Regions from separate parts of the Homo sapiens genome. Here regions 2, 3 and 4 are each linked to region 1. The links come from fine-mapping of genetic effects on gene expression. A gene starts in region 1. Each other region holds a variant in brackets. All regions are shown on one strand. Distances are from middle to middle.

What was found.
Region 2: its variant is fine-mapped to the expression of LINC00930 in tibial artery (GTEx, PIP 0.98).
Region 3: its variant is fine-mapped to the expression of LINC00930 in thyroid (GTEx, PIP above 0.99).
Region 4: its variant is fine-mapped to the expression of LINC00930 in whole blood (TOPMed, PIP 0.96).

The regions. Positions count from the first base shown.
Region 1 is chr15:92,571,110-92,573,795 of GRCh38, forward strand. LINC00930 (long intergenic non-protein coding RNA 930) reads right to left here and starts at 1,154. Exons shown (of 4, transcript NR_021493.1): 1 at 77-1,154.
Region 2 is chr15:92,760,059-92,762,744 of GRCh38, forward strand. No RefSeq gene overlaps it. Among named protein-coding and RNA genes, the nearest start is that of FAM174B, 110 kb to the left of the region's middle. The variant T/C (reference allele first, on the strand shown) is at 1,188.
Region 3 is chr15:92,594,721-92,597,406 of GRCh38, forward strand. No RefSeq gene overlaps it. Among named protein-coding and RNA genes, the nearest start is that of LINC00930, 24 kb to the left of the region's middle. The variant C/T (reference allele first, on the strand shown) is at 1,641.
Region 4 is chr15:92,807,126-92,809,811 of GRCh38, forward strand. It overlaps LOC124903558 (a long non-coding RNA gene), which reads right to left. Exons shown (of 2, transcript XR_007064767.1): 1 at 2,521-2,686; 2 at 780-1,884. Among named protein-coding and RNA genes, the nearest start is that of CHASERR, 74 kb to the right of the region's middle. RefSeq lists enhancers at 1,638-2,488, 2,425-2,544 and a silencer at 2,025-2,264. The variant A/G (reference allele first, on the strand shown) is at 1,276.

The sequences.
Region 1 (2,686 bases):
CACTTAATTGGAAAAGTATTCATTCTTGGTGGTCCCCAATGCCCCCAGGCCCTCAGCCATAGGATGTGGCTCTCACCTGGACAGTAGACACCTTGCTTCAATTTTCACTCTTCGCCCCTGGAAACCGTCGGCTGTTGGGGGTGAAAGGAAACTCCATAGTACTATACTGAGGTGACGTTTCCACCACCAACCATCTGCTTGGGCCCCTCTTAATTCTCCACCGGAGACTGGGGCTGCCTTCCTCAGGGATCCCAGCTATCTCTCAACACCTCGTCTTCCTCCAAGACTGGAGTCTTCGTGGAGTTCTGAGGAATTCACTTTCCAAGCAAGAAGGTTTTGGGTCCTCATGTCATCTTCCTCCAAGACTGGAGTCTTTGTGGAGTTTTGAGGAATTCACTTTCCAAGCAAGAAGGTTTTGGGTCCTCATGTCATCTTTCTCCAAGACTGGCATCATCTCGGAATTCTCAGGAATTCACTTTCCAAGCAAGAAGGTTTTGGGTCCTCATGTCATCTTCCTCCAAGACTGGCATCATCTCGGAATTCTGAGGAATTCACTTTCCAAGCAAGAAGGTCTTGGGTCCTTGTGTCTGGGGGACTCAATGCCCCCAGGAATCCTCCCTCCTCATCATGGGTTGCTCGTTGCAAGTGAAAGTCTCGTGCAGTAGGTTCCCTGTGCCTTCTTCTCTGGCCCTGACTTTGACAGGAGACCTCTTCTGGTGCCTTCTGGACCACCTGCTGCCTTACATCTGGGCTCCATACCAGAATCACCAGCATCCACTCAGAGGACACTGGGCAGCTATAACACTTGTTTTTTGCCGGGGCCAGTCCTAGTCCAATAGGGTTTCCAGGCACCCACAACAGCTGCCCAGGCAGCAAATGTCAGTCAGTTGTAAACCAGCCGGGTAAGACTCACACTTTGGCTTCCCTACATGGACTTCGTTTTGGGAGAAATTCCAGGATTTCAGACTCTCAGGGCCCATGGTCACTGAGCTCAATGTCCCCAATAGGTCACACCCTGCAGCTGCACCTCTAAGAGCTTGTGCTTCTGCCAAAACAATAAGCTTCTACTAGATGGGTCAGATCCGTTCTCTGACTTGATGCAATGGCCACTGTCCCTTCAGTCTGGCCCCTCAGCATCTGAGTCAGTGGGAATGTGATGGGCCCCATATGTAGAAGGAAGAACTGAAAGGAAGCACAGGAAGAACAGGAAGGAAGCAAAAGAAGGAAGGAAAGGAAGCCACCAGCTTCCTGCTGAGTCTTGATTAGGGCTCCTGGACAGATATTCTCCTCCTCCTGTTGCAAAAACTGTTGGAATTAACATAAAGCCTCTGAGCCCAAGCTTCCTCAAGTGTACAATGAGGATACTGGAGTCCGGAATCTCTGAGTGCTTCTCTGTGATGGACAGAACAATGCCCCGACAAAGATGCTCATGCCCTCCTCCCCAGAACCTGTGAATATGTCACGGTGCATGGCAAGGGGGGAATTAAAGTTGCCGGTGGAATTTAGGTTGCTAATAGGCTAACCCTAAGATGGGGAGATTAGCCTCGATTATCAGGGTGAGCTTACTGTCATCACAGGGACCCCTATAAGTGAGAGAGGGAGGCAAGAGAAGTAGTGTCAGAATTAGAGACGAATTTGCAGAAGCTGGCTTTTAAGATGGAGGAAGAGGCCATGAGCCGAAGGATGCCGGTGGCCCCTAGAAACAGGAAAAGGCAAGAAAAAGGTTCTCCTCTAGAGCCTCCTGAGGAGCACAGCCTTGCCAACACTTTGAACTTTGCCAGTAGTTTGAACTTCTGTCTTCCAGAACTGTGAGATAATAAATCTGTACTGTTTTAACTCATTTATCTTGTGGTAAACTTGTAACAGCCGCCGTAGGAAGCTAATTCACCCTCATCCCTCACATTCACACCACAATCTCCTTCTTCTCACCGGCATTCCATCTCCTCTGCCTCCCAAGTCACAGAGCCCCAGGTGCCACAATGGCTGTGGAGTCTGCGGTGCAACCTCATTGCAAATATTTGTATGCTCGGAAGAAAAACACGAGTACAATGTCCTATATTTACGAGGACCTTACTACTCTTAAATCGCTGTCGTTCAAAAACAAAACAATTTTTTTCAGCGTGTTCTTATACGCCCATTACTGAGCTGGTCCCTGGGGATGCAAAGACACATGGACCTCATTGTTTTCCTCCAGGAATTCACTTGGAAAAAGAAACACGGGAGATGCTGCCTAGAATCCTTGATGCCTCCGAAGTTAGACTGGAGTTGGATTAACCCGGCCTCTCTCTGTGGAAATAGGAGATGGCTAGAAGAGTGACATCAATCAGCCACAACTGCTTCAGCCTCATAACGTCGGAGCAATGGTATCAGACTTGATGCAGAGACTACCCGGGCATATGTGGCTTTTTTTTTTTTAAATGTAGTGAAAAATTCCAAGTCACAGCCACAACACTGAACTATCAAAAGATCATTTCATGTTTTGGTTTGTATTAAATGCTCTTTGCACTTTGCTTTTGTTAGAGATGGCTAGAAAATTCTAGAAATAAGGAGTGCTAGAGAAGAATCACTGCTTAAGAGCAGGATCTCAAAGAATACATCCTTTGCCCCCTATATCCTCTCCCCTTTCTGATTCTCAAAAAGACACTTCAAACTGATAGATAGTCTTTATGTAGATGAATGGGACAAA
Region 2 (2,686 bases), 190 kb after region 1:
GAGATGCCATCTCACATCAGTTAGAATGGGGATCATTAAAAAGTCGGGAAACAACAGGGACTGGAGAGGATGTGGAGAAATAGGAATGCTTTTACACTGTTGGTGGGACTGTAAACTAGTTCAACCATTGTGGAAGACAGTGTGGCGATTCCTCAAGGATCTAGGACTAGAAATACCATTTGACCCCGCGATCCCATTACTGGGCATATACCCAAAGGATTATAAATCATGCTGCTATAAAGACACATGCACACGTATGTTTATTGCAGCACTATTCACAATAGCAAAGACTTGGAACCAACCCAAATGCCCATCAATGATAGACTGGATTAAGAAAATGTGACACATATACACCATGGAATACTATGCAGCCATAAAAAAGGATAAGTTCATGTCCTTTGTAGGGACATGGATGAAGCTAGAAACCATCATTCTGAGCAAACTGTCTCAAGGACAGAAAACCAAACACTGCATGTTCTCACTCATAGGTGGGAATTGAACAATGAGAAAATTTGGACACAGGGTGGGGAACATCACACACTGGGGCCTGTTGTGGGGTGGGGGGAGGGGGGAGGGATAGCATTAGGAAATATACCTAATGTAAATGACAAGTTAATGGGTGCAGCACAGCAACATGGCACATGTATACATATGTAACAAACCTGCAAGTTGTGCACATGTACTCTAGAACTTAAAGTATAATAATAAACAAGTAAAAAAATAAAACTGTAAAATAAATAAGAGTGCTCTGATACCAAAGGGGTTGAATGAGAAAAAAAAAAAGTGCTCTGAAATTGACTCTGTTTACTTTACAGCAACTCACACATATAGGTCACAAAGCTGTGATGGAAAAACTTCAGTTTTACATCGAGAGAAAAAGTTTACTATTTGGGACTGGGTGCAGTGGCTCACACCTGTAATCCCAACACTTTGGGAGGCTAAGGTGGGTGGATCACCTGAGGTCAGGAGTTCAAGACCAGCCTGGCCAACATGGTGAAACCTCATCTCTACTAAAAATACAAAAATTAGCCAGGCATGGTGGCAGGTGCCTGTAATCCCAGCTACTGGGGAGGCTGAGGCAGAAGAATGGCTTGAACCCTGGAGGCAGAGGTTGCAGTGAGCCAAAATCATGCCACTGCACTCCAGCCCTCCAGCCTCAGCGACAGAGGAAGACTCCATCTCAAAAA[T/C]AGATAGATTAATTAATTAATTAATTTACTATTTGGGATACGACTTGACTGCTGAAGGGATTTCTCTCTCAACCATTCAGTTTTTCTCAGCCTGCAACCAAAAGACAATTAAGAGGGTTTCTTACACTTGCAGGATATTGCAGATCCTGGACCCTGAATTTTTCTGTGATGTCTTCACCATTGTATGAGCTCACTAGAAACACAGTCCCAGAGCCATTACCTTAAGAAGACAGTCATGAGCTGGCTTTTCACCATGAAATTGGCCTTATAACACCCCCCAGCTTTATGACTTTCAAATCAGGCTAAATCTTTTACCTTGTTCATTTCGAAACCTAACATCAGGCATTAGGAGTTCTTACCCAAAAACATGGGAGGAAACAGGCCCGTTGCCTATTATAGCCTACAATTAGACCTAGTAGCTGAGGCATATTCTAATTGTTTAAAAGCAGTAGCAGCAGAAGCCTAGTGGTAGAAGCTTCATATGAGCTGGTTTTAGGAAATAAACTTAATTTCATGTCCCAAATGCTGTAGAAAGTCTACTAAATTCCAACCAAACTCAGCATTTTTCAGCAAGTAGACTAACATCTTATGAAATTCTTCTCCTGTCTCTTTCTTCTCTCCATCTAAAATGCTGCAACCTGCTTATCCCTGCTATTCATTTACCTCTGCCTGACAATGGTGAAGATCACAGTTGTGTGAGTGTAGTATCAGAAGCTGGCTGGGTGCAGTGGCTCACGCCTGTAATCCCAACACATTGGGAGGCCAAGGCAGGCAAATCACTCGATGTCAGGAGTTCAAGACCAGCCTGGCCAACATGACAAAACCCTGTCTCTACTAAAAATACAAAAATTAGCCGGGTATGGTGGCATGCACCTGTAATCCCACCTACTTAGGAGGCTGAGGCGGGAAAATCACTTGAACTCGGGAGGCAGAGGTTTCAGTAAGCCAAGATTCACTGCACTCCAGCCTGGGCGACAGAGCAAGACTGTCTCAAAAAAGAAATAGTGGGCAGTGCATTCTGCTGTACTGTGGATCTGTCTCTTGCTTCAACAGTGTTTTGGCCGGGCGTGGTGGCTCACGCCAGTAATCCCAACACTTTGGGAGGCCGAGACAGGTGGACCACTTGAGGTCAGGAGTTCGAGATCAGCTTGGCCAACATGGTGAAACCCTGTCTCTACTAAAAATACAAAAATTAGCCAGGCATGGTGGCATGCACCTGTAATCCCAGCTACTTGGGAGACTGAGGCACAAGAATCACTTGAACCCAGAGGGCAGAGGTTGCAGTGAGCCTAGATCGCGCCACTGCACTCCAGTCTGGGCGATAGAGAGACACCCCATCTCAAAAAAAAAACAGTGTTTGGATGGACCAGACCCAGCCTCCCTATCTTCCAGCCTCTGACTCCTCTCCAATCTCCCCTCCACTTGCAACCTCCAGACCATCTTCTCTGCCACCTCCTGCTTCTGGGACCAGCCAACACCATTTTTGTGGTTAGCTCCTT
Region 3 (2,686 bases), 24 kb after region 1:
TTATTCTAAAACATCCAAACATCCTACATAAAATATAAAGAGAAGTGATAAATTGGTTAAAATATGAAAGAGAATGGAGAAAGAGTTAACAGGCTTAATGCCGCAAATCCTCTTAAAACATCAATAAAGAAAACAATCACGGGCAAACAGAGAACCCAGGCACACAATTCTTAGAAGTACAAGTATGTAACAAAATTCATGAGAAATGTTTGACATCAAGGTTAATCAGAAGAATGAAAACCAGCAAAATTAGACCATTTTCACAGTTCATAATTATATGTTTTAATTATATTTCCTGTTTATCAGGTGAAGTGGGGTGGGCATGGGAGAGCAAGGGCTATAGTTCTGGTCTGTTTTGAGAGAATCTGCCCCTGGGAAGCAGAGTTGACTGACAGCTCCAGCTATCCACCTCTTGGTGACCCCCCGCCAAAGCTTCAACATGACCAGGGTCCTCATAGCAGCCCACTCCTGCCTGTCACAGAATGGCCACCAGGCTTTGGTTTGGAGACTCCCTATCCCCTGCCCAAAGCTTTTAGAATCACACAGCAGTGGGAGACCCTTCCACAGGATCCTTTCCTTTCTTGCCTGCAGAAATGAGGGTCTGAGGCGCTCCTGCTAGTCCTGCCTCATCTCTCTTCATCTTTCACTGGCATTTCTCCCTAATTCCATTGCGTTGTGATGATGGGATTCATGCACCCTCATATGCTGCTAAGGAAAATGTAAATGAGCACAACGTTTCTGGAAACTATAAGTGATTGAATTATGACACTCCCTCATTCAATTGAATATTGGTGTGGTCAGTAAATATCAGGTTTGGGAAGAGCCCCAGCGAGGAAATTTCTCACATTATAGTCTTCAATGGATAAAGCAAGAAGCAAAACTACATCAATAACATGACATCAGCTTTAAAAACTATCACATGTAATAGACAGATCCACAGAAAAAAGAAGGGCAGCAAATTCACCAAGATTTATAGGACAGCTCCCTCCAAGGGTGCAACTGTGAATAATTTTTATGCTTCTGCTTATACTTTTCTGTATTTTCCACATTCTCTGCAAAAAAAAAGTATAAATTATTTCATAATCAGAAGATGTTGCTTTAAAAAAGTAAGATTAAACATAAGCCAAAACAAGAGGTAGCAAGAGTCCAGTGTGGGCCGAGCGGAAAGCGGGGCATTGAGGTGAAAGGAGGAGCCGTGCCTACCGGGGGAACTGGATATGCACAGGGCATGATCTGAACTGTCAGCGAAAATGAGGGCTTGTGAGAAAAATAGCAGGAAGTCCTAACAGAGAGCTTCAGGTCAGAACAGCAAAGAGCCTTCAGTGCCAAACTCACCGTGACAACCACCGAAGGTGGTTCTTTAGCGTCGTCAGTTGACCAACACTGCTTTCCCCATAGCTTTCCTCTGAATTCCCACATTAAAATATTCATCTAGAGAAAGGACCCACGCCCAAACCAGCCAGAAATACTTTGGATCTCAATGGCCGTGTTCGCTTGAACCTAATTCAGTGGGACAGCAGCTGTCTGGGAGACAGCCTCGGGCCGGAGCCAGCAGAAACACGGCCGCAGCACTGTCCTCACCTTCTAGACAGGGAGGTCAGACTTCCCCGGAAGAGGCTATTTCTCTGGATTTGTTTTTC[C/T]TCTGTTGCTTAATTTGTTTTTTCAGTTGTAAAAGAAGACATTTGGGAAAGATTCCATTTGCTTAAATTACACGCTGGTCACGCCTTCCAAGAACGTGACTCTGGATACTCGGCACATCGAGGGGTGCCCCTGTGTTGCCACTTTCTGGGATGTGCGGTGACCCTAAGATGTATTTTGAAGGTGGGGAGTCATGATAAGCAGAGTCAGCATAGATGCATTCCTGGGGTGCTAACCCCTCGAGAACTCTTTCTGGTAAAAGCACACCTGCTTCCCTCTCACATGGACAAGTGGGGCAGGGACCCATGACTCCCCATCAGTTCTTGAGAGAAGAGTGGCTGGGAATAGTTCCCATCTCCCCTTCTTCCGGTGAACACTGGGCCTGGAGAGACCTCTTCAGTTCAACCATGGGCAAAGACACAAGCAAAAATGAGAACAGAACACAAATCCCCGCCCCGACCTCGAAAAGCTGGAAGAACGTGCTTTTGGAAATGACCTTGAGCAATGTTTCTTAGCCATGTTTGAGCTTGTAGCTTGGGCAAATTATGACAGTTGATCTTCTAAAGAGGTTTCCATTTGGAAAAAATAATAACAAAGCCCTGGAATGCCTATGCTCAGAAGCCTACCAGTGCCACTGGGCTCCCTTGTTGTGCCTTTTTGGCTCTTAGGGAATCCTGCAGAGCCCACCTCCCTTGAGGACCTGCCTTTGTCTGCTCCTCTTTGCTTTTTACTCTTGTGTCTTATAACAAGCGACACCTGTCACTCTGAGACATAAACCATGTGAGGCCATGTGACCAAAGGTCCCACCTGGAGGAAACTTCCCTCCCCCTAGAGACACTATTCGCTGTCCAGGTAGGGCCTTCCTGGGCCACTGTGGATCTGACCTATCAGGAAGAGGGTCCCACAGTCCCCAAAGGCTGCCTGTTCCAATCTCCTTCCCTGCTAGGGACAAGGCAAAGAGAGAGAAGGAGGCCTGGGAAAGGGAGGGAGAGCAGGAGGGAGGTGGGCCAACCTCTCCTCTCCTCCTTTCTTTCAAGTATGAGTAGCA
Region 4 (2,686 bases), 240 kb after region 1:
ACGCCTAGCCCAGCATACTTTTCAACTGTTCAGTTTTACCTGGAACAAGTAATAGGTTCACATGGTCCAAATTCATAAGTTACTAAATTTTTTTTTTTTATTGAGAGGGAGTCTCGCTCTGTTGCCCAGGCTAGAGTGCAGTGGCGCCATCTCGGCTCACTGCAACCTCCACCTCCCGGGTTCAAGAGATTCTCCTGCCTCAGCCTCCCGAGCTGCTGGGACTACAGGCGCGTGCCACCACGCCCAGCTAATTTTTGTATTTTTAGTAGAGACGGGGTTTCACCATGTTGGCCAGGATGATCTCAATTTCTTTTTTTTTTTATTCAGACGGAGTCTCGCTCTGTTGCCCAGGCTGGAGTGCAGTTGCGCGATCTCGGCTCACTGCAGTCTCCGCCTCCCAGGTTCACGCCATTCTCCTGCCTCAGCCTCCAGGACTACAAGCACCCGCCACCACTCCCGGCTAATTTTTTGTATTTTTAGTAAAGACAGGGTTTCGCCGTGTTAGCCAGGATGGTCTCGATCTCCTGACCTCGTAATCCGCCCGCCTCGGCCTCCCAAAGTGCTGGGATTACAGGCGTGAGCCACCGCGCGCGGCCTCGATCTCTTGATCTTGTGATCCGCCCGCTTCGGCCTCCCAAAGTGCTGGCATTACAAACGTGAGCCACCGCGCCCGGCCACAAGTTACTAAATCTTACCAAAAAAAAAAAAAATCCCAACTCAGTCACCCTAGCAACCTACATCCTTCTCTCCCCGGAGGTAAAACTATGTTAACACCTGAATATTCTTCCAGAGATATTTTATGCATACATGGTACAAGCAAAAGGCACATACAATCGTATCATTTTACATAAATATTGGCACTCTAAATTCATGGAAAGTTTGAGCTACAGTTTCCTCTTCTATAAAAGAGTGGTAGGGAGGATTACATCACAGAATTATGCAAAATGCCATGGAATCAGCACTCAATAAAGACAAGTCTCCCTTTCCTTACCCTGAGAAGGGCTGTGAGGGAAAGGGGTCTTCAGTGTGCCTCGGAATCACCTTGCTGCCTAGTAATCACAGCTTCTCGGGCCCCACCCGCCACCGTCCTCAGAATTTCCCATTTAGAAGGTCCGGGATAGACTCCTAACACTGGCATTTCCAACGAGCTCCCCGACATTGGAGATGCTGCCTGGCTGGAGGACTATCTGAGAACCTCAATGTCTAGTGGAAACTTACGTGCCCTCGATTCCAACCAGGCTCTACCCCATGAACAAATTACTCTTGCTGAGCGCC[A/G]GTGTGAGTAGAAAGAGCTTCCATATCAAAGGCTGCTAGGAGGATTACCTAAGATAACGCAGGCCTTGCTCAAGACAAACGTTCAGGAAATCAAAATCGGTTTGGAGATGAAATGGGAAAGACAAGAGCAGCTCCAAGGAGAGAAGAACGTCCAGAAAACCAAGAAATAGGACTGGTAAAGGGTGCTGACCAGGTCCCTGGAGCTGCACCCCGCCCCGTGCGCCTCCCCAGCCCCCCGGCCGCACCGTGCCCACCCCGCGCTCGTCGTCCCCCTCGCCCCCAGCGCCACCCTGCACTGCGGACCCGGGACCGCCTGGGAAACGCCCTGGTCTGACATGGCTTGGGGCTCTGGGCAGAAGCCAGGTCTGAAAACCAAGGTTGGGGCCTCATGTGTTAGTCTGGAAGCACCAAGCACCGCATACCAAAATACCTCGAGGCAACCGTATGGCTTTTTTTTTTTTAATTAAGTTGTTCCCGGGCGGTGGCTCACGCCCGTAATCCCAGCATGTTGGGAGGCTGAGGCGGGCGCGTCCCTTGAGCACGGAAGCTGAGGCTGCAGAAGGCTGTGGTCGCGCCACTGCACTCCGGCCTGGGGGACAGAGTGAGCCCCTGTCTCAAAAATATAAAACAAAATAAAAAATTAATAATTAAATTAAATGTGTGTAAACATGTAGGTGACCTTCTAGCCCTCGGTGAACCAGACTAAAAAACGCTCCCGCACTAGGCGTGGTGCCCGGAGCGGCCCCGCCCTCGGAGCACGCTTGTGCGCCAAGGCTGGTGGCGGAACGCGGACGTGCTGCAGGCAGGGAATGAAATGGCGGAGGAAGGCGGGGCAGGGCGCGGCCGGAGCTCCGCGGCCAGCCGCCAGGGGGCAGCCGCGCGTCTGCGTCCCGCGGGCGGCTAGAACCAGTCCTGCCGGAAGTTGGGGCGGTGCCTTCGCTTCCGCGGAGCCGTGCCACGTGGCCGGCCCGGAGGGACAGGGGAAAACAACAAGATGGCGGCAGCCGGGGGCGGGGTCAGCCCGGCGTCCCTGAGGCTGCGAGCCCCTTAAAGGGCCGCGTTCGAGGAGCCGGGCGAGATGAACTGAGTGGTTTTACCCAGCCGTGGGGGCTGTTCGACTGAACATGGGCCTGGGCGGGGACAACCGCGCCAAGCGGACGCGCCCTCCGCCTGGTCGGAGTTCATCGACCCAGGCCCTGCGGGGAATCCCGCGGCGCAGTTCCGCAAAGCTGCCAGCGTGCTTACCAGTCGGGGCCCGTTTCTTTTGTCTCTGCGTTTGCTGCTCCGTGCAAACAAGGAGGACAGAAAACTCTTTATCGTGGCGTTTTCTTCCTGAGCGAGAGATTAGGTTGCTGCAAATCCAACGAGGCGAGTCCTCTTGGATCGAATTAATGCATTGGCTCTTCCCTTC